7 linked regions of the Homo sapiens genome follow. The protein of the gene in region 1 interacts with the protein of each later gene in a pairwise test. Each region holds a gene or a part of one and is shown in the gene's direction. Other genes may lie near its edges. The genes, in order: TM4SF19, TMEM167B, BNIP1, SYS1, GOSR2, CTXN3 and UBE2J1.

Region 1 (3,500 bases):
GCACCCCTCCCCTCTCCTACCCCCACCCTCCCAGTGCACCCCTCCTCTTTCCTACAACCCCTCCCCAAGCACCCCTGCCCTCTCCTGCCCCCACCCTCCCCATGCACCCCTCCCCTCTGCTACCTCCACCCTCCCCGTGCATCCCTCCCCTCTCCTACCCCCACTCTCCCTGTGCACTCCTCCCCTGTCCTCTGGCCACCCTCCCAGGGCACCTCTCCCCTCTCCTACCCCCACCCTCCCAGAGCACCCCTCCCCTCTCCAACCCCCACCTTCTCAGGGCATCCCTTCCCTCTCCTACCCCCACCCTCCCAGTGCACCCCTCCCTTCTCCTAACCCCCACCTTCTCAGGGCATCCCTTCCCTCTCCTACACCCACCCTCCCAGTGCACCCCTCCCTTCTCCTAACCCCCACCTTCTCAGGGCACCCTTCCCTCTCCTACACCCACCCTCCCAGTGCACCCCTCCCTTCTCCTAACCCCCACCTTCTCAGGGCACCCTTCCCTCTCCTACACCCACCCTCCCAGTGCACCCCTCCCTTCTCCTAACCCCCACCTTCTCAGGGCACCCTTCCTCTCTCCTACCCCCACCCTCCCAGGGCACCCCTCCCCTTGTCTTCTTTACCATAAGCTACAGTCTGGCCGGGTTTGGTGGCTCACACCTGTAATTCCAGCACTTTGGGAAACCGAGGCAGGAGGATCACTTGAGACCAGGAGTTCAAGACCAGCCTGGCCAACATGGTGAAACCCTGTCTTTACTAAAAATACAAAAATTAGCCGGGCATGGTGGTGTGCAGCTGTAGTCCCAGCTACTGGGGAGTCTGAGGCAGAACAATCGCTTGAACCGGGGAGGCGGAGGTTGCAGTGAGCTGAGATCGCGCCACTGCACTCCAGCCTGAGCGACAGAGTGAGACTCTGTCTCAAGAAAAAAAAAAATTATTTATCCTGGACCGGGTCTGTTTCTGAGCTCCAGCCTGGGAGACAGAGCAAGACTCCATCTCAAAAAAAAAAAGAAAAAGAAAAGAAAAGCTACAGTCTTGAAAAATGGAAAACACCCGACTAAACAAGTTTCTAAAACAATTCTGAGTTCCTAAGTCGTAAAACTGTTTTTAAAAGGATATGTTGAAGATGAAATATAGGATAGTAGTTCCTAGGAAGGAATCCAGAAAGAAGGCAGGATTGGAGAGGGCACACCTGAGTGTCAGTGATGTGATGGGTAATGACGTATGTTTGATATTGGTTGTGTTTACATGGGTGTTAATTATCTCACACAAGTTACAAATATATTTTACACATTATGTTTAATTCTTTTTTAATGCAATTTTTTTTTTTTGAGACGGAGTCTCGATCTGTGGTCCAGGCTGGAGTGCAGTGGTGCGATCTTGGCTCACTGCAACCTCTGCCTCCCAGGTTCAAGTGATTCTTCTGCCTCAGCCTCCTGAGTAGCTGGGATTACAGGCGCACACCACCATTCCCAGCTAAGTTTTGTATTTTTAGTAGAGATGAGGTTTCGCCAGGTTGGCCAGGCTGTCTTGAACTCCTGACCTCAAGTGATCCACCCGCCTCGGCCTCCCACAGTGCTGGGATTATAGGCGTGAACTACTGCACCTGGCCTTTAATGCAAATTTTAAAAATATAATTTCAACTTTTATTTTAGATCCGGGGATACATATACAGGCTTGTTCCGTGTCTATTGTGTGATGTTGAGGTTAGGGTATGAGTGATTCCCGTCACTCAGGTAGTGAGCGCGGTACCTACAGATAGTTTTTCAGCCCTGGCCCTCCCCCAATGTTTAATTCTTCATGCTGTGAAATATTTCATTATTTATGTGTGATGTAAAGTAATCCCCCCTTAACTGAAGCTTTGCTTTCCAAAGTTTTAGCTATCTGTGGTCAACTGCAGTTCAAAAAACTTACATAAAATATTTTCAATGAGAAAGACCACATTCACATAACTTTCATTACAGTATGTTGTTATAACTGTTCTATTTTATTATTATTGTTGCGAACTTCTTACTATGCCTGATTTATAAATTAAACTTTATTACAGATATGTATGTATAGGAAAAAGCATAGTACAGACAGTCCTCTACTTATAGTGGTTTGACTTCTAAGTTTCCAACTTTACGACAGGTTTCTAGGGACCTAACTCCATCATCAGTGAACTCCTTACCCTTTATGATGGGATTACGGTTTCTACTGAATACTCATTGCTTTTGCACCATCACAAAGTCAAAAGTAAATTGGGACTGGGCGTGGTGGCTTACGCCTGTAATCCCAACATTTTGGGAGGTGGAGGTGAGAGGATCACTTGAGGCCAGGAGTTTGAGATCAGCTTGGGCAACATAGTGAGACCCTGTCTCTATAGAACTAAAACATTAGCCAGGTATGGTGGCGCATGCCTGCGGTCTCAGCTATCCGAGAGACTGAGGTGGGAGGATCACTTGAGCCCAGATCAGGGCTGCAGTGAACAATGATTGTGCTACTGCACTCCAGCCTGGGTGACAGAGCAAGACCCTGTCTCAAAAAAAAAAAAAAAAAAAAAATTGTAAGTTGAACCATTGTGAGTCAGGGACAGTCTACTGTGTTGCCAGCATTAAATGCCTTTTGAACTTAGGATATTTTGACTTACAACGGGTTTATAGGAGTTCGACCCCATCATAAGTGGAGAAGCATCTGAATATACAGAGTTTGGTATGATCTGTGGTTTCAGGTATCCGCTGGAGCTCTTGGAACATATCCCCTGCAGATATGGGGGACTATTGTGTGTGTGTGTGTGTGTACGTACACACATATATACGCACATTATACATTATATGTATATGATATATATGTGTGTGTGCATATATATAGAGCCTCTGATCCATATCTTTTATATATATATATATTTTTTTTCTTCCCTTCCCCTTCCCCTTCCTCTTTCCTTCCTTCCTTTCCTTTCTTCCTTCCTCCCTCCCTCCCTCCCTCTCTCCCTCCTCTCTCTCTCTCTCTTTTGCTCTGTCACCCAGGCTGGAGTGCAGTGGCGTGATCTGGGCTCACTGCCACCTCTGCCTCTCGGGCTCAAGCGATTCTCCTGCCTCAAGCTCCTGAGTAGCTTGGATTACAGGCGCACACCACCACGCAGTTAATTTTTTTTTTTTGAGACCGAATCTCACTCTCTTGCCCAGGCTGGAGTGCACTGGCGTGATCTCAGCCCCCCAGGTTCACGCCATTCTACTGCCTCAGCCTCCCGAGTAGCTGGGACCACAGGCACCCGCCACCATGCCCAGCTAATTTTTTTGTATTTTTAGTAGAGACGGGGTTTCACCATGTTGGCCAGGTTGGTCGGAAACTCCTGACCTCGTGATCCACCCACCTCAGCCTCCCAAAGTGCTGGGGTTACAGGCGTGAGCCACCGTGCCTGGCCTCTATACACATATTTTCTGATTAGGTGCAAAGCAGTGTGTTATAGGCGTGTCAAGAGCCTCAAGTGGCCAAGTGCAGTGGCTCACGCCTGTCATCCTAGC
Region 2 (3,671 bases), on another chromosome or scaffold:
AAATTTTTTTTTGAAAAAGGACAAAATATAAACAAACAGTATATTCACCTAGACCCTAAAGCATAAGGATAGCATTTAGAAACATCTCAGAGGCCGGATGCGGTGGCTCATGCCTGTAATCCCAACACTTTGGGAGGCCGAGGAGGGCAGATCACCCAAGGTCAGGAGTTCGAGACCAGCCTGGCCAACATGGTGAAACCCTGTCTCTACTAAAAATACAAAAATTAGCCAGGGAGCCGGGCACGGTGGCTCACGCCTGTAATTCCAGCACTTTAGGAGGCCAAGGTGGGTGGATCACCTGAGGTCAAGAGTTCAAGACCAGCCTGGCCAAGATGGTGAAACCCCATCTCTACTAAAAATACAAAAATTAGCTGGGCATGGTGGCAGGCGCCTGTAATCTCAGCTACTCAAGAGGCTGAGGCAGGAGAATTGCTTGAACCCGGGTGGCAGAGGTTGCAGTGAGCCGAGATCGCGCCACTGCACTCCAGCCTGGCCGACAGAGTGAGACTGCCTCCAAAAATAAAATAAAAACATCCCAGGCCCTTGAGAGCGTTGATATGTCTGTCTGTGACTAGAGACTTCAAAATATCACCTTGAAAGTGAGGACTTCGGTGAAGGGCAGGGTGTGATTTCTTCTCTCTTTTGCCTGCTAGCCGCTGTGATTGGAACCAGGCTGCATGCTGCTGTGGCAATTGCTTGTGTTGTAATGGCCTTTTACGTCCTGTTTATAAAATGAATTCCAAAGCACCCAAGTCATCAACTGCCAACCAAGGGGACGGGGATGAAGAACCTGTTGGAGACCTGAACCCAGTGTAGGAGAGTTCAGCTGAAATCATCGGTCCCCAGGATGACACCACAGCATCTGCCCCTGCTATATGTGGGGAAAACTCATGGTCACGAACATTATTTATGCTTCAGGGGACTACAGAAAGCCAGCTTCCTTTGATCTATGTGTAAATCAGTCCTTGGCAGAGTGCATATAATGTCCGGATAAATTACACCCCTCGGTGATAAGATTACATACCTCCTTCATAAAAACCTGTCATCCTGTTTTGTTCTTCAGCTCCTCATCAGGATCTTTTCAAACTGAGGCTCATTAGGGAAGGAACTAGGCTGTGTTCAGACTTCTTTTGAAGAGAGAGAATTTTCAAGACTTCTTTTCACTCTTTGATTTGGATCTGGCAAATTGGGGAGGGGATGCTGGGTGGGAAACAGTTATGAAATGCCAAGAAATTCTTTGGCTTTAGAAATTTATCTTTCATGTACCCATCCGGGAACATAAAAGAGAGGCATAGTGCTCATTGCAAAAAGAGAACAGATGAAGTAGCTGTGTTATGTGCTGGTATCTTGAGAGTTTTGCCAAGAAAATCTGGGCCTACATAAAATTTGAGAATTATCTGTGTGATGAGACCAGAAAGCAGTGGCTTAGACAAGAAAAAATCTTTCTGTTCACCAGTATCCTCAAATGGAGACTTCACTTGATCAGATGGTATATGAAAAATGAATCAACTATTGCTATTTCGTAAAACCTTTTTATATTTTCTAAATTTACTTAGTGCTAAATACTGTTACTCAGTTTTAAATGCCACGACTAGGGGAAAAAGAAACTATTGAAGAAATAATTGTTTAGTATATTTGCAGTTGGGGTAGAAGAAAGAAATCTAGTATATTGATTCATATACTAGTAAATTCATCTAGTATAAGAACTTGTGATGTTAGATTGAAGTTTTGTCATCTTATAAAAGACAACAAACTTATTTTCTGTTTAAGTCTGAGTGTTATGGCAATTTTTAGTTGATTACTTATTTTTCTTAGCCAAATTTTAATTTTCTTCATATTGCATTGCTCTTTAGTTGTCTCTGGAAATTCTATTTACTTTAAGGACATGAGAAATTCAAATGAGAGAAGTTGCTGATATTCATCAGTGTGTTTGGACAGTTCATAGGGTCCACAAATCAAATGAGGTTGTTTCCTGAAGTAGAAGAAAACAGAACTTTGCAATTGATACTGAAGTACTTTGCCATGGAGTTAGTAACTCCTGAGCAGACCATTTTAGATGGCTCAGCATTTGGCAGGAAGACTTCTCCATTCCCTGCTTATATCTATGGAAGGATCAGCTGTTGGATGTCTAGAACTTCTCTATTTAAAAAAAAAGAGTAGGTCTAAAATTAAATTATTATAAGCAAGCATAGACATGGGTCTTCCAGTTGAATTGTCCATTACCGTAAAACTTAATGGTGGACAAGTTAGCTGTGGTTGATTCCTGTGTGGCAGTAAATTGTCTTCTGTCTGCTTACTCCAAATAATAAAAGCTGCTAGGAAGTTTAGATTTTGAAATAGGCAGTTTAATGCTTTGAGGGTTTCTAGAAATACAGAAAGTCATCAAGTAAACACTGCATGTCTAATCATCTCAGAGTTGTGGCTGTTATCTCTTCAGGAATTGGTCCACAGGGTAAATTTCAACAATTCATACGTTTTCCATTGTCATTTCTGAGGACCTTTGAGATGAGAGAAAGGAAATCTAGTGGAACAGGAAAGAGAGTTACACCTTGTGGGTGTGAGTTTGGGACCTGTTGGCAGAAGGGAATGTCACTCCCTGGAAACAGGTTCAGCATGTTTGCACTTGTTATTTTGTAGCTTTAATGATTTTTGTTTTCTAATAGGGCAAATGTCTCTAAGCTTGGTGTTTAGAGCTGCTTCATATTTTAAACTAGTTCCATTCCACAGTTCTAGTTCAAACCAGTTTTTACAGCCTCCTGGGTGGGTCGTCTTGACCCAAACTCTTGTGTTGTTACATTTTGAGAGGTTTTCATACCAGAATGTACCAAAAAGTGCACAAGGTAAAGGTAATTTACAGCCAGAAACAAATATACATTTGTTTCATTTCTTGACTTTCCCTAAGCAGATAAGCAGAAACTTGTTTAACTCATTACTTTGTTTGATGTGTCTTACATATTTTTGACTAAAAGTTATAGAATGTTATTCCTCTGGGGGAATCTTTTACAGGTGGAGGAATGGGGATAGCAGTATTGCCTCAGATTCAAACTGGCATCACCATAAACCCTGTAGGCCAGGGTGGAATGAAGTCAGCTCCTTTTTATAGTTGAAATACAATTTTTTATTCACCATTGTCTGCACAAATCCTTGAAAATAAACCTTTTTTTCCCTACAGTCTTTGTCAATTTATTTGTCACATGCTGAATTTATTGAAGTTTGTTCAGTCCTCCCCTGGGTTCAGTTCATAGCCTACCTTTTTAGTTCACATTAGTAAATACCATCATTCCTGTTATCCCATTGTGAGAGCATTGAATGTATTATATAGTTAAGAATCTATGATGGCCTAGTTTTCTCCTTTAGGGCAGCTGAGACAGATATATCTAGAGATATCTATAACTAGATATATATATGTATATATGATATGCTGAGATATATATAACTAAATATAAATGCATGTAGTAAGTTTTCATATATATACGAATAAGATATTCATATATATGTGAATGAATAAGTATTGAGGTATATGAATGAAATAAGGTAGATAGCACCCCCAATACATTCCATCTGCTATTGCTATTAAAATACAAGTATCATCTGCTCTAAACAGTCATAAACATCTTCATTCAAATGAAGTTAACAAGTTAACCAGCCAGACACCTAGAAAATCCTTGAGC
Region 3 (3,500 bases), on another chromosome or scaffold:
TGCCATTCTTTCTACCCTATTCATTCATTCACTACCTCAATCCATCACACTCCTGGGTTTTTTTTTATGCTGTTACTTTGCTCAGCATCTTCCTTATTTCAATAGTCACCAGTCACATCATATACACATTTAGTATGCCTGAATTCAAGTATGGTATATGTGCTGTCTCAAAAAACACTAGAGGGTGACAAGTAGCAGTTATGTTTGTTTGTTTTATTTATTTCACATTTTATTCTTATTACATTGGGCTGGGCAAAGAGTTGTGCACCACTGTATAGATCATGTTATTCTGTTGCTTTCATTTTTAAAAATGAAAATGAGGCCAGTAGTTTGAGAACAGCCTGGCCAACATGGCAAAACCCTGTCTCTGATAAATGCAAAAATTAGCTGGGCATGGTGGCACACACCTGTAATCTCAGCTACTTAGGAGGCTGAGGCAGGAGAATCGCTTGAACCCAGGAGGTGCAGGTTGCAGTGAGCAGAGATCGTGCCACTGCACTCTAGCCTTGGTGACAGAGCAAGACTCTGTGTCAAAAAAAAAAAAAAAAAAAAAATATATATATATATATATATATATATATATATATATATATATATATATATATATTTTAATAGAGATGGATTTTTTGCTCTATGTTGCTTGAGCTGGTCTTAAACTCCTGGGCTCAAGCAATCCTCCTGCCTCAGCCTCTGAAAGTGCTGGGGTTACAGGCATGAGCCCAGACTATTGTGTTGCTTTCAGACAGAATTGGGATTCAGCTTCTAATTGTTTCCAAGTTCAGAATCTAGATCAGAATCAGAGGATGAAGACCACTTGTGGGTCTGGGGGCTGCTGAGAGGAAACACGTATGGAGCTGACTATGGAGGGGTCATGTTTCAAGGCTGCCATCTGGGCATCCAAGGATCCTGCATGCAGCTCATGGGTAGAGGGGCCCACAGCAGCCCCTCAAAGTGAATAGGGATGGCACAGGCCCAGGGCTGGAACTCAGGAGTTGGAAGGATGACTGCATCTGCACACTTAAAAAGATGCTGTCCATCTGTATCCTGGAATCCTGTGTAGGCCCTCTCCCTGAGGACAGGAACAGGGTTGGCTCCTTGGCCTCTGTTTAGCCTCATGAGTAGTTCAGTAAAAGTCCTGCAAACTTGTCATTATCTGGAGACATTCCTGCCGGCTCCTCTTCATGCCCCTCTACTTGAAGCACTAGGCAGTTGCTTTATATTGTTCATGATTCTTCTTCAGTTATTCAAATTTGAGATAATTGCATTCTTTTAGGGAACTCTGGATCTCCTGGTCACTCCAAGGGTTGATTACTGTTCTGATGGTTTTTCTGGTTTCTTGGTTTCTTCTTCCTTCTTTATTTCCTGAGGGTTTCTAGTAATTTCAGTCTGATGTCTTACGTTCTCCATTTTTATTCCTGAGTTTTCTCCTGGAATTCTTCTCACTGCAGCCACAGGACCTAATGTTGGGTTGGCAGAGAACTAGCACTTACTCTGCCCTAGTGGGACCTAGGAGAGTCAGGAGGTACCTGAGTGTGGAAACATGCCTGCTCCTCTAGACTTCTGGAGGTCTCTTAGAAGTAGCAGTTTGAATAGTGGAGATGTTTCCCCTGCTGTACCTTCAGTGAGGGTGAGGTGGGTGTCATGGATCTGCCCATCTGTATTAGTCTGTTTTCATGCAGCTGATAAAGACATACGTGAGACTGGGAAGAAAAAGAAGTTTAATGGACTTCTGACATGGCTGGGGAGGCCTCACAATCATGGCAGAAGGCAAAGAGGAGCAAGTCACGTCTTATATGGATGGCAGCAGGCAAAGAGAGAGCTTGTGCAGGGAAACTCCTGTTTTTAAAACCATCAGATCTCATGAGACTCATTCACTATCATGAGAAAAGTGCAGGAAAGACCCACCTCTGTAATTCAATCATCTCCCACCAGGTACCTCCCATGACATATTGTGAGAGTTACAATTCAAGATGAGATTTGGGTGGGGACACAGCCAAACCATATCACCATCCCTGGATGGGTCTTGTGGCACCTGGTCTTGTGGTATTGGGGTTTTGTATTAGGCCTTTCTTGCATTGCTGTAAAGAAATACCTGAGGCTGGGTAATTTATTTAAAAAAATGGGTTTAATTGGCTTAAGGTTCTGCAGGCTGTATGGGAAGCATAGCAGTATCTGCTTCTGGGGAGGCTTCAGGAAGCTTCCAGTCATGGCAGAAGGCAAAGGGAGCAGGCATGTCACATGACAAAAGCAGGAGCAAGAGAGAGATTGAGTGAGAGCTCACTTACCACTAAGGGGATGACTTATGCCATTCATTAGGGATCCACCCCCATGATCCAAACACCTCCCACCAGGCCCCACCTCCAACACTGGGGATTACCATTCAACATGAGATTTGGGCAGGGACAAATATTCAGACTATATCAGGTCTAAAGACTTGAGCTTTTTTGGCCAGCACAGTGGCTCACGCCTGTAATCCCAGCACTTTGGGAGGCCAAGGCGAGTGGATCGCCTGAGGCCAGGAGTTCAAGACCAGCCTAGTCAACATGGTCAACCTCCATCTCTACTAAAAGTATAAAAATTAGCTGGGTATGGTGACCCGTGCCTGTAATCCCAGCTGTTTGGGTGGCTGAGGCATGAGAATTGCTTGAACCTGGGAGTTGGAGGTTGCATTGAGCCAAGATTGTGCCACTGCACTCCAGCCTGGGTGACGGAGCAAGACCCTGTCTCAAAAAAAAAAAAAAAAAAGACTTGTGCTTTTCATATAACATGGCCCCCAAAGCCCACCAGCAACTCTGTTGTTGCTTAACAGAGGAAGACAGTCTGTTCTAAAGCTGGTAGAAAAGCTGGCCAGTTGGACCCCTGAGAAACAGTATGTCTGTGTCCTGTGTTTGCCTACCTCAGAGATTTTCAAGGGCAATTTTGAAAATGTGTAATTTTTGCTATTGGAGTTAACTATATGATTTTCAGCAGCGTCACCATACCTAGCTGATCTCTTCCTGCCTTCATCTCCAGTACTGATTTAATCATCTTAATTTTTTATTTTTGAAAAGATGTTCCTTTTACATGTTTTATGTATGTGTCTGTCTATAAGTATCAACATTCAGTGAAAAGTCTCAGTTATGCCCCAGTTTTGTTTTTTGTTCCACTCTTCCAAACAGGTAACCACTTTTGTTACTGATATGTCATTCCAGAGTTTCTCTACTCAAATATTTAAAAAGACAAATTTCTTTTTTTTTAAAATTTCTTCCTTGTTTCTCATCTAAAAAGTAGCATACTAACACACAGCTTTTAAAAACTTTATACTTTTGTTTTTTTGTTTTTTTTTAAGACGGAGTCTGGCTCTGTTTCCCAGGCTGGAGTGCAGGTGTGATCTCTGCTCACTGCAACCTCCACCTCCTGGGTTCAAGCGATTCTCCTGCCTCAGCCTCCCAAGTAGCTGGGATTACAGGTGTGTGCCACCACACACAGCTAATTTTTCGTATTTTTAGTACAGACGGAGT
Region 4 (3,554 bases), on another chromosome or scaffold:
GACTCATTTGGCATTGAACCTCAGCTTTACTACTAGTCTAGTGACTTTGGACAAGTTAATCTACCACAGTTGCCTCATCAGTAAAATGGGGCTAGTAATATTACCTACCTCATAGTTGTAAGGATTAAATAAGTTAATTCACAAGAAGGACTTAGAACAGTGCCTTGCATGTTATTATTATTCTTGTCCTTACACCGGAGGTTGAAAACTGGTGGGCTGACTTTGACCTAAATTTGTCTTCCAGATAGGTTCTATTTGGCTTACATAGATGTCAGCCCACACATGGTGTTTAAAACATTTTTTTCACTTAGTTGAAAATCAGGCTATTTTATATAAAAATCCAGATTTCTGGCTTCTCTTGAATAATGGAATGACTGACTGATTCCAGGCCAACCTTCTAGCATGATAAGATTTGCCTAGATGCAAGTAGCTACTGCCCCCCTTTAGCTAGAACATGTATGCTTCAGGGTGTCATGATCCCCACCAATTCCTAGGATCCCCTAGTGACAATTGCCATCGATCATCAAGCTCATACTCAGTCAGCTTCACTCTTGACATTACCCGCCAGGTTCTTCTAGGCGTCTGGTATCATAACCCTTGCTTCACACTTATCTCGTCACTTCTGACCACTATGCTGCCGTCCTAATTGTCCCTACCCTCCCAAATAACCTAAGGCCAGGACAACCCAGTGACAACTCACTGCTGTCCTCTCCCCACAGTGCCCTGGGCTTGCTGTACTTCATCCGGCGAGGAAAGCAGTGTCTGGATTTCACTGTCACTGTCCATTTCTTTCACCTCCTGGGCTGCTGGTTCTACAGCTCCCGTTTCCCCTCGGCGCTGACCTGGTGGCTGGTCCAAGCCGTGTGCATTGCACTCATGGCTGTCATCGGGGAGTACCTGTGCATGCGGACGGAGCTCAAGGAGATACCCCTCAACTCAGCCCCTAAATCCAATGTCTAGAATCAGGCCCTTTGGACATCCTGCTGACACTTGGGCCCCTTAACACCTTGGGCTGCTCAGACCCTCCAGATGAGGTCCAGCCCAGATCTGAGAGGAACCCTGGAAATGTGAAGTCTCTGTTGGTTTGGGAGAGATAGTGAGGGCCTGTCAAAGAAGGCAGGTAGCAGTCAGCATGACAGCTGCAAGAATGACCTCTGTCTGTTGAAGCCTTGGTATCTGAGAGGTCAGGAAGGGGACCTCTTTGAGGGTAATAACAGAATTGGAACCATGCCACTCTTGAGCCACAATACCTGTCACCAGCCTGTTGTTTTAAGAGAGAAAAAAAATCAAGGATATCTGATTGGAGCAAACCACTTCTTTAGTCATCTGTCTTACCCCCCTGGGACAGCTGTTACCTTTGCAGTGTTGCCGAATCACAGCAGTTACCTTTGCAGTGTTGCCGAATCACAGCAGTTCTGTTGGAGAAACGCTTGGTTTCCGGATCCAGAGCCACAGAAAGAAATGTAGGTGTGAAGTATTAGGCTGCTGTCAGGGAGAGGATGGCAGATGGAGGCATCAAGCACAAGGAAAATGCACAACCTGTGCCCTGTTATACACACGTTCATGTGCACCCAAGAACCTATGACTTTCTTCCAGTTCCTTCTACCAGGTCCCCATCCTGCTGCCAGCTCTCAACATAGCAGGCCATAGGACCCAGAGAAGAATCCCAGCGTTGCTCAAAGTCTAACCATCATAAAGACACTGCCTGTCTTCTAGGAATGACCAGGCACCCAGCTCCCACTGGACTCCAATTTTTTTTCCTGCCTTATTTAGAATTCTTTGGCGGGAAGGGTATGATGGGTTCCCAGAGACAAGAAGCCCAACCTTCTGGCCTGGGCTGTGCTGATAGTGCTGAGGGAGATAGGAATTTGCTGCTAAGATTTTTCTTTGGGGTGGAGTTTCCTCTGTGAGGGGCTTGCAGCTATCCTTCCTGTGTATACAAATACAGTATTTTCCATGGTTCTGCCTGCACTTACTTTGTAATGCCACGGTTGAGATTGAGAGAGATCAGCGCAGCCAGGCAAGGGAACTTTAAAGAATTATTAGGCCACCTTCTCCCTTTCCTGGACCCCAGAGTCATTCCTCCATTTGGTTAAAATACTCAGTGCAGGGAACTCTTACATCCTGTCTCCTTCACTTGCAGCGTCCCCTGCTATGCCTCAGGTGAACCACATAATTCTTGGGTTTCCGTTCCTACTTGCTAGTGATTTCTGAACATGTTCAATGGAGCGGCACACAGTCTAGACCCACTTCCGCATTGAAACCTTCACTGTTCCTCTTTGGTTTCTTCAGAGCTTTCCCAAGAGAGCTGTCAGTTTTCAGCTGTCAGTAACACAAATGAGTTTATGGTAACACAAATGAGTTTTGCTATCTCTCTGAGAAGCTCATCTGACCTCCTGACTCTCAGCCCTACAGAGTAGGGAGTTGATGCTGACAGGATGAAGATTTAGGAATAAATATGCCTGGGAAGAGACTGGGAAGGTTCTAGGGTGAGGCACCTCAGTAACTCATGGTACCTTGGCCAAGTTGGAAGGAAGCAGTTTGTTAATGAGGCACAGTAATCCTGGCTGCAGGGTCTAGGAGGTAAGACCAGCTGGGATGACCTTCCCTGGGTTAATCAATTTCCCTCTAGACAACACAAACTGCAGGCATGTGACTAACTTTGAAAGAACACCCATCATGTGGCTGCTGTCACCCTTGACCAGCCGTGGTGGTGGTTACTCCATCTGTGGTTGGAGCGCCTCTTTGGGATTCACTTCAAGGTCTTGTGCCTATTTTTCTGCATATCTTCTGTGATGACAAATCTCTGTCCCCTGAGTGTTAATTTGATTTTTAGAAATGGCCAAAAGTCACGTGATCCAAACTTTTTTTCAGTAATATGGAGACTGAGCTGCATGGTAGTTGGGGATCAAAAATATGTGACCTTAATGAGATTTTTATGATTTCTAAAGTAACAATAAAAGCAGTTTTTAGAGTTGAGTTCCAGAGAGGGCAGGGCAATGGCAGTGACATGTTTGTCATTTTAATAATAAATAACATCTATTGAGTGCTTAAGAGGTGTCCAGCAGTGTGGGCTGAGTGCTTTATGTCTCTTTTCAAAATCTTCACAAGAACCCTCTGAAGTAAGAAGTAACGTCATCTGTATCTTACAGATGAGGGAGCTGTAAGGAACTTACCCAAGGTGACTTTTTAGGAGCTGGCAGAGCCAGGATTTGGGCTCTAATAGTGATATTAATAAGCTCATTTTGAAGAGGTCAGTAGTTAGGGATGTATAAGTTCTGACTGGCTAAACAGTCTGGTTAAATAGTTTATCACCTTATAATCATATCTTCTTGTCCTGTCAATTTTTTTAAATACCGAGGATGAATAGTACTTTATAAACATTACTAGCTTTCTAAGAAAAGCTGATATGCAGTACATTAAATATAGCCAGAGATTTCCTTTTTTTTTTTTTTTTTTTTTTTTGAGGCAGGGTCTTACTCTGTCACCCAGGCTGGAGTGCACTGGTGTGATCTTGGCTCATCATAGCCTCAACCTCCCAGGCTCAATGATCC
Region 5 (3,500 bases), on another chromosome or scaffold:
CTCTGCCTTGGGGGCTTAATGATTCAGCGTGGAATGAGTTTTGTTGTTAGGGTGGACAGAAAAACCCTATGGCAAAGTCACTGATTTCCCTGAGTGTGCCCTTTGGAATCCCACAAGTCTTATCCCCCATTACCCCTCCACTCAACCTGACATGGCCCTATGGGAATGGAAGCGCTTGCCTCCATCTATCTTAATCTAATTACCTAGTCCTTAGAGGAATGTACTCCATAAAAATTCAGAGATGTTTAACTGGAATTGGCCATTTCTTCTGAGCTGAGAACTGTGGCTTTTTAGGAGGATTATTCAGAAACGAACAGCAATATTAATTAGTTTAGTTCCCACAGCATGGTTTCTTTTGAGAAGCATGCTGGTTTTTTGTTTTTTTTCATTTTTTTTTTTTTTTTCTATTCTGAGGAAAGGTCCTTTTTCTGAGTTGGTCATATGGACACCACCTGCGGGGGCTGCCTACCCACCCCACTGCTGGGCTCCCTCAGGACCCATTCCTCCTGTTCTCTCATGTCTCCTTTCGCAGCTTCAAAAGCAGCTCTGTTCTTGGTTCTGTGCCCCACCTTGTTCTAATCTCAACTGTCTTTGTTCACTGTGGGCACAAAGGGCTAGGAAGGGGCAGTGTCACTGCTGTCACTTCTTTATGGGGCAAGAAGCAGTCTGGATGCTTTCTTTTGTGCACAGTTTAGCTTCTTTGTTCATCGGACTTTGTTTGCCTTCTCAGCAATCTCATTGTTACATGATTAGAAATGGAAAGAGGTCATTTTGACTGTCTTATCGAAAGGGATAGGGAAAATGACCGTATTTATCGTATCTCTTTACCTCTGTGGATTCTTTCCTGGGCCTTTCCTATTGATATTTGGTTTATTTTGGGGACGTCAACATTGCTCAGCCCACCCATTCTTACAGAAAGCTTTAAGGGAAGAAAGCCTTAAGGGAACTCTTCTCTGTATGTTTCACATACTAATCTTCCCCTTCCTTTATGCTTTTTTTTTTTTAAATAAAAAAAAAAAAACTCATTACTATAGGGAATTCAATTGGCAGCCTTTTTCTAGGTATTTATAATCCACGTCTGAGAATCCCAAAGGAAAAGAGACCTATATCAGAAAATTTAGCTTAAAGTATTTATTTGGACAACCTTTGCATGTTTATTTTCTAAAGGTAGGAAATTTATTTCTACAGATTTACCTTCAGCTTTTTTAAAAAATTGGCATTGTTATGTCATTAACAGCTATATACATGTACTTTTTTCAAAACAACATTTACGGCCTAACTTGAATTTTTTCTGTTATTCATTAGTGTATACATTTTTCTCCTTTTGAAATATGTAGTTCTAGTTTATTGGATATTGAAAAAAAAATCTGTGATTTATCATTGTAATTTAAGTTCACTATCTCTTTTCCAGCAATTATTCTTTTTTCTTTTTTGTACAGTAGTAGAAAACGAAATCCAAGCAAGCATAGACCAGATATTCAGCCGTCTAGAACGTCTGGAGATTTTGTCCAGCAAGGAGCCCCCTAACAAAAGGCAAAATGCCAGACTGTAAGTGCTGACCTCTGACATGGCTCTGATACTCCAGGCCCATCAAGACAGGCTTTTCTCCCTGGGGGAGGTGATAGAATATTCTGAAAACCAACGTACATGTTGAAAAACTATGACTATGCAAAGAAAAAGCCCCCTCAAAGGGCACAATTCTATCTGAGTGATGCCGCTCAAAATAAATAGCCTGTGAGGTTTGTGACTCAGAAACCTTGTGACCCCTTACCTCTTTGGTGTCATTTTGAAATTTTGCCTCCAGTTCTGTTTTTTGACTAGATCCATAGCCACCTGAAGCCTAATGTTGCCATGGAGTTTTGTTCTGCTCTTTGGTTCCTGCTGGGTTCTTCTTGGGTTGAAATGAAAAATCACTTCAATCAGTCCACCCATAATGAAATGCTGATCTAATGTTTGATACTCCAGCATGAAATTAAAATGAAACCACCCTTGCCACCTCCACCCCCAGCGCCTGTTTCCAAAAGTTTTATGAAACTTTGTGGATGCTTTACCTCAAAGATGCCCTTGGGCTTCTTCCAGGAGAGCCATATAATCCATAGAAGGTCAAGAAGAGGTCAGTGAGCCTGCTTCCTGTCCCCTGTTCTCTGTCATGCATCCAGAATCAGAGCAACAGATTCTGAAGTCAAGCTGCTGGAATCTTGTGTGCTACCATCTCACTTTAACCACAAGTTTCTTCTTGACTTTCAACATCGTTGATCAAAATTAGATCTTGTGGTGAGGGGGTATAGTGTGGGGTGGTGTAGGGAGAAGTAAGGAAACGCCGTCTTTCCTCAGTACAAAGCCTGGCCCCCTCAGATTCTGCTGCCCTGAGTTCCTGGAATTTAATCTCTCTCTCCATCAATTCCAGTCGGGTTGACCAGTTAAAGTATGATGTCCAGCACCTGCAGACTGCGCTCAGAAACTTCCAGCATCGGCGCCATGCAAGGGAGCAGCAGGAGAGACAGCGAGAAGAGCTTCTGTCTCGAACCTTCACCACTAACGTAAGCCAGGCCCGTGGTGAGGGTCGGCCTGCACTTGACAGATCGTGGGGGCTGGAGTTCAGATCTCTGAGCGCCATCTGTTTTGGGGGTGTCTGAAGAAGACTGATGATGAGGAAACCAACTGGAAATGACAGGAACTTTGTGCATTGCCACAGAGACTAGACCTAGACAGAGAATCCCTTTTTCTAAGACAAAAACCTGAAGAGGAAGCAGTTAAATTGAAGGGGAATAGGCAGAGGTGAAAATTACCTGGTTGGGCTGGTCTGAGACAGAAAGGTGGAAGTTCACATGGTGGAAACGTTTTTCTGATCAGATAGAGACAGATGATTAGAACTTAGGCCATTTGTAGAGAAGGCAGCATTTCAAAGCTGCCTGCGGGCAGTTGCCATTGTGCCGAGTATGTGTGTGGCTCCAGTGTCAGGTGCATTAAGATGTTTTTGCCCCTAGTCTGAGCAGCAATTTGGAGGAATTTGTTAACAGATGTTTAGGGTTAGATGGACTGCTTGCCTGAGTCTGTCTGAAAGTGTGTTGGTTTGCATGTTTGATTTTTCAGAACCCATTGTCCCTGCCCTTTAGTCTTAACCAGATCATTTCCTGCACATGGCTGTAGAACATACTGGCCTTTTCTGTGTCCTGCATAATATATTCCACTAAATGAAGTGTGCTTTGGCTTTTTGTATTTTGTTTTTTTACAGAGGATTATTTTCTAAAGAGATGTTAGCTTTCTAAGCCAGTTGTTAAAATTCACATCATTTCCTGCTTTGTAGATGTTTAACCCTCAATGCTGCATCCTTGCTTTGCAATAAATTTTCCCAAGTGTTTCAGGCTGTGCCAACATAGTTTTTGCTTCCCCAGACTAAGCAGTCAAGTTACAGTGTTTAACAGTTCAAAAATTTAATGAACTATAAGACACACTAAAAGATGTTTGGATTTTAGATCGTTATAATGTAGTATTCAGGC
Region 6 (4,034 bases), on another chromosome or scaffold:
ATGCAAGAGGGATGCCAGTTAGTACAGGATGATCGTGCTCAGTTGGATTTCATGTGTCCCATTGTCTTACGGTGTGTGGTATGTGTGTGTCTGAAAATAGGGTAAGTAAAATGAATTGGAAAGAAAATTCAGTTAAAAATTAGGAAAACAAATGGGGAAAGAACCTGCATATTGTCTTGAGGTTAGACTCTAACATCAAGCATTCGATCCTAACATTTAGCATTTGATTTGAAAGGTTCCTTTGGGGTCCGAGGCCTATCCTATCCAGGATTGTGGTCCGTTGTGAGCAGATGGGGTTTCCCTCTTAGAAGATGAGCTTGGTTCCAGTTTCCTAGAGCCTTTGGGTAATGGCCGGTTGCTCACAAGAGCTGAGGAGACAGCATAGCTGACAGGCACAGTCAGAGGCAGCTTTAAATATCACGCACCCCATCATTTGGTGGGTGGGTGTGTTGTCGCTAACTGTGCCGCCACTTCAACAAAGAAAGTGGTGAGTTGCCAAAAAACAAGGATGCTCCGTCTTAAGCATTAGGCTGAATTCTTCTTAGAGAAGTGTTTTTTTAATGAAGAATTTTATCCTAAAATATTTTCCAAATTTACTTATCCAACGAAAGTAATTTAAGCATTGTAGCAAGTAACTAGAATCTGCAGAATGAGAACAACTTTCTCTCACAAAAATCAATCTTCTTTATTCATCGAGTGGTCTCAGGTGCCCTGTGTGGGGTGGGGGCTTTCCCAATGCCACAATTATGCAGGCTGCTCAGAGAGACACTGGACCTGGCAACCAACTGCCCAGCTAATTTACAAGCAGGTGACAGGTGGTGAAACTATGATTTTGATATTTTTAAATGGTTCTTTCCTTCCCATAAATGCTGCTTTTTGGAAAGGTCACTTTAGTTTTCTTTAGGAAAATGAGCCTTTTCTCCCTCTCCCAAATGCTAAGTTGATGCCCTTCCCCAGAAGTCTTCCTGTTAATTGAGTTGGCCTGAAGGTCATCAACAATAATCAATATGAAGACTTGCTGCGACGTGCTAATTGACACTCCCAAAGAGGAATAGTGTCAACAATCAATAAAGAGGACAGAGCACTGGTAGATTTATGGCTTTGATTTTGAAAAGGTATAGGAATGCCTGTGATGTTTCCCCACCCCCCAACCCCGTACTCCTTTTGAATGTTAATGCTTTCTTGAAGATGATTTCAGACACACTGCTAGGATACTGCCTCTACTCGCTGAAGCAGAATCCTCTGAAGAGTTGCTGAGGCAGAACTGAAATCATGGCTCACCTCAAAGAAGCAGCAGTATTGGCCGTTAATGATGCCTCACACAGAAAGACGATGCTCCTTTAACTCGGGGTTTTAATGGGAAGTTTCTAAGCCTGAAACAACAGCTTTAGACCTGGGGTGTGCCATCAGCTGCCTTGCAGCTACCACTGTCTACTGCTTTCACACAGCGTGGTCGGGAAGAATGGAAACTAAAGAGGCTTGTAACTACCTGTAACTGTTCCACCAGGAAATGGATCAAGTGTTTGTTCAGCCAGAGCCAGGTACTTGACCCAACCTGTATCTTTGACGGGCTAATTAAATGCTTTTCTCTAACTTTACAATTGATGCATGAGCAATCATCGCATACATGCCTTTCGGATCATAGTTGTGAATTTAGATCTAGCTGTTAGATAAGTCTAATTAAACAATTGCTAGATAAAGTTAAGAAGCGAGGGGGTAAAATGTAATGATGCCTTTATTTTTAAAGCATGGTTAAGTTTATAATGTTATTGATACTGGATGAAGAAGTAGTAAAACAGGCTTTTTTTTCTTTCCTAAGCTGCAGTAATTTATTTCTGAAAGCTGTTTGCCCATTATCGTATTTTTTTTTTCAGTCACCTAAAACGTCCAACCTTCCAAAATGTAACAAGGATGTTCTGATTTGTTTACAAAGGATCACAACTCAACCACTCATATTGACAGCGTTGACTGTCCCTGGCTGATAAGCTGTGTGCAGCACTATCCTTTTGAGATATCAGCAAGTAGCCGTTTTCACTATGAAACACACAAAGAAAGACAAAGAAAACCAGGTGGAACAGTAGGGCTTATTATTTGAAGTTAAAAGTTCCAGTTCGTTAAGGGTGCCTTCTGATACCACCGATTCCTGACTAGGCACCCTCATGGTGTTTTCTGATGTTCTCAGCTAGGCAGTAGCCTTGCCCTGCAGTCCCTTAAAAATTCCTCAAGCAGATATTAAGAGGAAGATGAAGATGGGGAAGAAGTAAAGCTGAGATTGGGGCTGAGGCTGAAGACAAAGGTCTCCTGCTGACCCAGAGCTTAAAAGCAGCAGTGAGTTGAGAATAACAGGGTCCACTCCCAGCCCAAGCAGACGTGTCTGCAGGCTGACTTTGCAGAAACAAGCAGAGAACAGACTTCCCAGTGCAGCAGTGGGGGCTGGCAACAGTTCTGAAACTGCCTGTTGACATCTGTAGCTGAAGACATCCTCATGTTTATGAAATCATTGTTCGTAGGCTTTCTAGTAGACTTGAGTCTATGTTTTGAGAGTATAAAATATATTTACCCTTAGCCCCCCTTTGAATTTTGAAGCATCAGGGCTATTGTATTGGAACAGGAGGGCTGTACTTGGAAAAAAATATAGAGATGTTGCCGTGTATATGAGCCAAAAACAAGGGGAGTGGGAGGATTTAAAATCTATGAAACACCTAGAAAGAGCCAGGAAATCTTTACCTGAAGTTCTTTGCTGGTAAGCAAGAGGGCCATGAATTCTTTGAATTTATATGAAATATTTTGTATCTTTGTGTGTATATCCTGAATGCAAGTTACTGTTCACTAGAATAATACACAGAATTTCTAAAAGATTTGTAGGGGAATAATATTTGCTTATGTGGTGATTCTGTTGCTTAGATAACGAGGTGGCTTATACAGATGACTCACAGTTGTGGTGGGGATGGATAATAGGATCATTTGGGAGATTTACACATCTAGGGTGGGTGAGTGGGTTGGAGAATGAAATGTACTTTGAGAGACTACAGTTATACAAACAGGAATGCAGCCCAGGCTTCCTTTAGTGCTAAAAGTAGAGAGGGATTCTATTTAGGCTCAGTATCAGGATGTGTATTACTTGAATCATTCAAAGCCATGTTAACATTTCCACAGTTAACTTCAGAACTGTTGCAGAATAATGCAGCATTTTGAGTAAGTTTGTCTCTGTTGGTCACCGCAAATTCAGTCCTGCCTAGCTAGGCAATTCCGTTCCTGTTAAAGTCTAAAGATTGGTCTCGCTAGTCTGCCAGATAAATATAAATAAGGTTGATAGTATATCTTTGCAGGATAAAGTGTCCTGTCTATCACATGTGAATGGAAACTGGACAAGCCCAAGAGTGTCCTTGCTCAATGGATGGGCTGTTTTGACACCTACTTTTGAAACCACGTCAAGTCACGTAACTAGGTTTCTGATCCAGAAGTTTTAAAAATTAGGTACTGCAATTATGTGGTTTAGGAATATTTAAAATACAGACAGCATTGCTTCACTGCACCCTACAGGCCGTTAACACCTGAGGGATGACACCTTCAATTCATTCCAACGTGCCAGTGAAAAACTAGGGATCTACCATCATTTGGCGTTGGGGTGGTAGGGGGTGGTGCTACCTTTTTGGTAACGATTTTTATAATTCTGGGCAGTTTATTTATAATTTTCATACCTTAGTGTGCTTGATCACATAATAGAAATTAAAAATAAATAACATTTTGCACAAAAATGGTGTAAAAAGAAAACACTCATTCATCCCCACCTACTTATCAAATCCCCACTATGTGCCAGGCAGGACTACACAGGTACTGCAACTATTAATTAGATCATTGCACCCTATTGCAAAAGGGTGGGCTCTTGAGTTGATGACCTGTAGAATCAAGTCCCTGTGTGTGGCTCCACAGAACAAGGTGTCCAATGCACTTAAGTAATTCTGTCGCTGTCACTTAAAAAAAAAAAAGAAAAGAAACATGTCATTGCTTTAAGATACATTTTCTTCAGAGAA
Region 7 (3,500 bases), on another chromosome or scaffold:
GAACTCCTGGCCTCAAGTGATCCTCCTGCCTCAGTCTCCCAGAGTGCTAGGATTACAGGCGTGAGCCACTTCGCTGGCCAGTAAAACTTTACATGTTAATTATTTAGATTTCACTTGTGCAACTCAGTTTCAAAAGGTGCTGTAAAACACCTTCTAAAAACAGCTTTTATTATTCAGCATCCAACAAGTATTTTTGGAGTCTATAAGGACAAAAAATCTGTGTCCCATGAGAGGTTACATTTAAAAAAAAATCTTTTTGGCCGGGCGCGGTGGCTCATGCCTGTAATCCCAGCACTTTGGGAGGCCAAGGTGGGCAGATCACAAGGTCAGGATATCGAGACCATCCTGGCTAACACGGTGAAACCCCGTCTCTACTAAAAATACAAAACATTAGCCAGGCCTGGTGGCAGGCGCCTGTAGTTCCAGCTACTTGGGAGGCTGAGGCAGGAGAATGGCGTGAACCCGGGAGGTGGATCTTGCAGTGAGCTGATATCACACCACTGCACTCCAGCCTGGGTGACAGAGCGAGACTCCATCTCAAAAAAAAAAAAAAAAAAAAAAAAAACAAACTTTTTAAGATAATCTCTAAAATTATTATATATAAATAGTATATTTTTACAGAAAGTATAAACATTAAGCACATGTATTTAATTTTCTAAATGCATTGTTTATTCCTCAGGCTAATGGTCGATTTGAAGTGGGCAAGAAAATCTGTTTGAGCATCTCAGGCCATCATCCTGAAACTTGGCAGCCTTCGTGGAGTAGTAAGTGTTAATTTATAGTGAATATAAATCTCATAACTTCAGTCAATTCATAGTTATGAAGTATAATACTCTGATTTTTTCTTTTTCCAGAATAAACCCAGTTGCTTTTACAAAGCAATTTAGATTGATATTTACTTTTTTATTTCAGTAAGGACAGCATTATTAGCCATCATTGGGTTTATGCCAACAAAAGGAGAGGGAGCCATAGGTTCTCTAGATTACACTCCTGAGGAAAGAAGAGCACTTGCCAAAAAGTAAGTTTTGCATTTCATTCTTCTTGAGGTCTGAATAGTATTCAGGGTAATGGCTATTAGGAGGTAGGGCCTACCTCTTACTATGTGACTTATTTTCTGAGTGACTGTAGCTACAGGATCTTATCTCAGTTTTGCTCTTTTAGGAATTCAGTTGTAATAATTTCCTTGGAGTGACCAGAATCTAAGTAATTTATTTAATGCTATCTAGTCTTAAAAAGTAGTTGATACTATTTCACTATTTTTAAAAAATTCAGTGGGAGATATATTCTCCTGGAAAACAATACCAGTCATTTGTTTCCACTATGGCATTATAGATGGAAAAGAACCAGAGCAATTATTTGTAGCTTTCCACAAGATTACAAACCTCTTGAGGGCCAAGAGGTAATCCACTTTATCCATCTTTGCATCTAGCTCATAGCAAGTGCTTAATAAATGATCTGGAATAAAGCAAAAGAGATTTTATCAAGTTGTGATTGCCCAGTGGCAATCACAAACAGAGAAGTGATGCCTTCTCTGTTTTTTTCAGGTGCAGGTGCACTTTTGTCTATATGACCAAGATCAGTCCTTCCATTCAGAGTAGCCCCTCTTTGAGTAGTGCTGATACCTAATTTTTGATGTTGATAATTTTTCTGCTCTGGAGTCTGCTGCCTACCACCCTTCAGACATATTATGTTAATTAAATTATATCATATTTTACCCTAGCACACCCCAGAGTAGGCCCTCTACAGATATTTGCTAAATCAGTTAGATTTTAGCATCTGGAAGATTTGGTAGACTTCTTGGTCTTATAAGCAACTTTTCTTTTTAAACCTTATTTCCAAACTATGGGTATGTACTTTATTTATACAGCTCTTCATAGATTACACTATGTACTTTGAATACATAGTATTTGTTTTCATTCGATTTACTACGTTGGTTTTTTTATCTTGATGCCTTTATCCAGTTGATTTCATGTGCGAGGTAAAAAAAAAAAAAAAAGAACTGGAGTTCTTGTTCTTCTAGGCTTCTCACTGTATATTCTAGATTCTCAGTCTATAATAGAAACCTTTTAAAAAATGATTTTGGGCCGGGCATGGTGGCTCACACTTGTAATCCCAGCTCTTTGGCAGGCCAAGACAGGTGGATTGCTTGAGTTCAGGAGTTCGAGACCAGCCTGGGTAAAATGGCGAAACTGCAGCTCTACAAAAAAATACAAAAATTAGCTGGGCGTGGTGGCACGTGCCTGTAGTCTCAGCTACTTAGAGACTGAGGTGGAAGGATTGCTTGACCTGGGGAGGTTGAGACTGCAGTGAGCCATGATTGTGCCACTGCACTCAAGCCTGTGGGACAGAGTTGAGACCTTGTCTCAAAAAAAAAAAACAAAGATTTTTGCATTCAACCGTGGTAGCATGCTACCATTGTGGATAAACTAATACATTCAAAATAAACACTCCCCTTAAGGTTCATCTGACTCAGTTAAAAGTGAATACATTTTGAAGCAAATAATTTGTATATAACCAATTCTCAAAGGTGTGTGGTCAACAGTGCCACTTCTGGTAAAACAAGAAATACTCATCAATAAATACTAAATTAGGCTGGGCACAGTGGCTCATGCTTGTAATCCCAGGACTTTGGGAAGCTGAGGCAGGAGGATCGCTTGAGCCTAGGAGTTCTGGACCAATCTGGATAACACAGGGAGACACTGTCTCTACAAAAAAAAAAATAATAATAAAATGAAATAAAAAAAAAAAATAAAATAAAATAAAAATTAGCGGGGTGTGGTGGCACACACCTGTGGTCCTAGCTACTTGGGAGGCTGAAGTGGGAAGATCACTGGGGTCTGGGAGGTTGAGGCTGCAGCAAGCCATGATTGCACCACTGCATTCCAGCCTGGGTGATAGAACGAGGAGACCCTGTCTCAAACAAACAAACAAACAAACAGAAAAACTAAATTATTGCTACTTTTACATATATTTTGTTTATATGATATTTCATAATTTTAAATAGCATGTTCTTCAAGACCTAAGGTTTTTTAATAGAACTAGAAGTACTATGAAAAACAATTTTTTAGAAGGAAGTTTAACAGTGTAACAATATATGTTTTATATATGATGCATGTTTACTTTCAGTCATTCATATCCTCAGAGGACTCTTGTAAACTTCAAGGAAGTTTTGACTATATCTGGAATACAAAGGGAAAAATGGAAAAACAAATATATTTTAGAAAATAATCTAGTTAACAGACATATCCTGAGTCTCTACCTAATGTATAATCAGCAATAAATTAAGTCTTTGGATTTTCTGCAAGTTCTCCCAAGTCTTTCAAGTTATACTGCTATTTGTGAGGGGTTTTTTTTTCCCTAGAAATATCTGTAAATTCTATGTTTAATTAGTTTCTTTACTGCTTTATATATATTTCTGCTAACAGATAATTTGATCTTGTTAAAGGACTTTTTTCACAGCCTTAAAATAGGTTTGTTATATGTGATCTCAAGGACAGTAT

Evidence for each region.
Region 2: the proteins of TM4SF19 (region 1) and TMEM167B interact in binary tests that used the Homo sapiens proteins (3 or more experiments, as listed by UniProt).
Region 3: the proteins of TM4SF19 (region 1) and BNIP1 interact in binary tests that used the Homo sapiens proteins (3 or more experiments, as listed by UniProt).
Region 4: the proteins of TM4SF19 (region 1) and SYS1 interact in binary tests that used the Homo sapiens proteins (3 or more experiments, as listed by UniProt).
Region 5: the proteins of TM4SF19 (region 1) and GOSR2 interact in binary tests that used the Homo sapiens proteins (3 or more experiments, as listed by UniProt).
Region 6: the proteins of TM4SF19 (region 1) and CTXN3 interact in binary tests that used the Homo sapiens proteins (3 or more experiments, as listed by UniProt).
Region 7: the proteins of TM4SF19 (region 1) and UBE2J1 interact in binary tests that used the Homo sapiens proteins (3 or more experiments, as listed by UniProt).

What each region holds. Positions count from the first base shown.
Region 1 is NC_000003.12:196,331,889-196,335,388, reverse strand, and holds part of TM4SF19 (transmembrane 4 L6 family member 19), read left to right. Parts: intron 1-3,500. UniProt on the Homo sapiens protein: Negatively regulates vacuolar (H+)-ATPase (V-ATPase) activity by interacting with members of V-ATPase V0 complex and hence inhibiting V1-V0 complex assembly. Required for multinucleation during osteoclast differentiation.
Region 2 is NC_000001.11:109,093,764-109,097,434, forward strand, and holds the end of TMEM167B (protein kish-B isoform 1 precursor), read left to right. Parts: intron 1-653; coding exon 654-736; coding exon of another isoform or gene 737-816; 3' UTR 817-3,171; downstream 3,172-3,671. UniProt on the Homo sapiens protein: Involved in the early part of the secretory pathway.
Region 3 is NC_000005.10:173,147,531-173,151,030, forward strand, and holds part of BNIP1 (vesicle transport protein SEC20), read left to right. Parts: intron 1-3,500. UniProt on the Homo sapiens protein: As part of a SNARE complex may be involved in endoplasmic reticulum membranes fusion and be required for the maintenance of endoplasmic reticulum organization. Also plays a role in apoptosis.
Region 4 is NC_000020.11:45,366,156-45,369,709, forward strand, and holds the end of SYS1 (protein SYS1 homolog), read left to right. Parts: intron 1-719; coding exon 720-960; 3' UTR 961-3,054; downstream 3,055-3,554. UniProt on the Homo sapiens protein: Involved in protein trafficking. May serve as a receptor for ARFRP1.
Region 5 is NC_000017.11:46,929,660-46,933,159, forward strand, and holds part of GOSR2 (Golgi SNAP receptor complex member 2), read left to right. Parts: intron 1-1,439; coding exon 1,440-1,548; intron 1,549-2,407; coding exon 2,408-2,540; intron 2,541-3,500. UniProt on the Homo sapiens protein: Involved in transport of proteins from the cis/medial-Golgi to the trans-Golgi network.
Region 6 is NC_000005.10:127,647,848-127,651,881, forward strand, and holds the start of CTXN3 (cortexin-3), read left to right. Parts: upstream 1-1,234; 5' UTR 1,235-1,541; intron 1,542-3,895; exon of another isoform or gene 3,896-3,974; intron 3,975-4,034.
Region 7 is NC_000006.12:89,335,723-89,339,222, reverse strand, and holds part of UBE2J1 (ubiquitin-conjugating enzyme E2 J1), read left to right. Parts: intron 1-679; coding exon 680-764; intron 765-912; coding exon 913-1,018; intron 1,019-3,500. UniProt on the Homo sapiens protein: Catalyzes the covalent attachment of ubiquitin to other proteins. Functions in the selective degradation of misfolded membrane proteins from the endoplasmic reticulum (ERAD) and is essential for cells to recover from ER stress.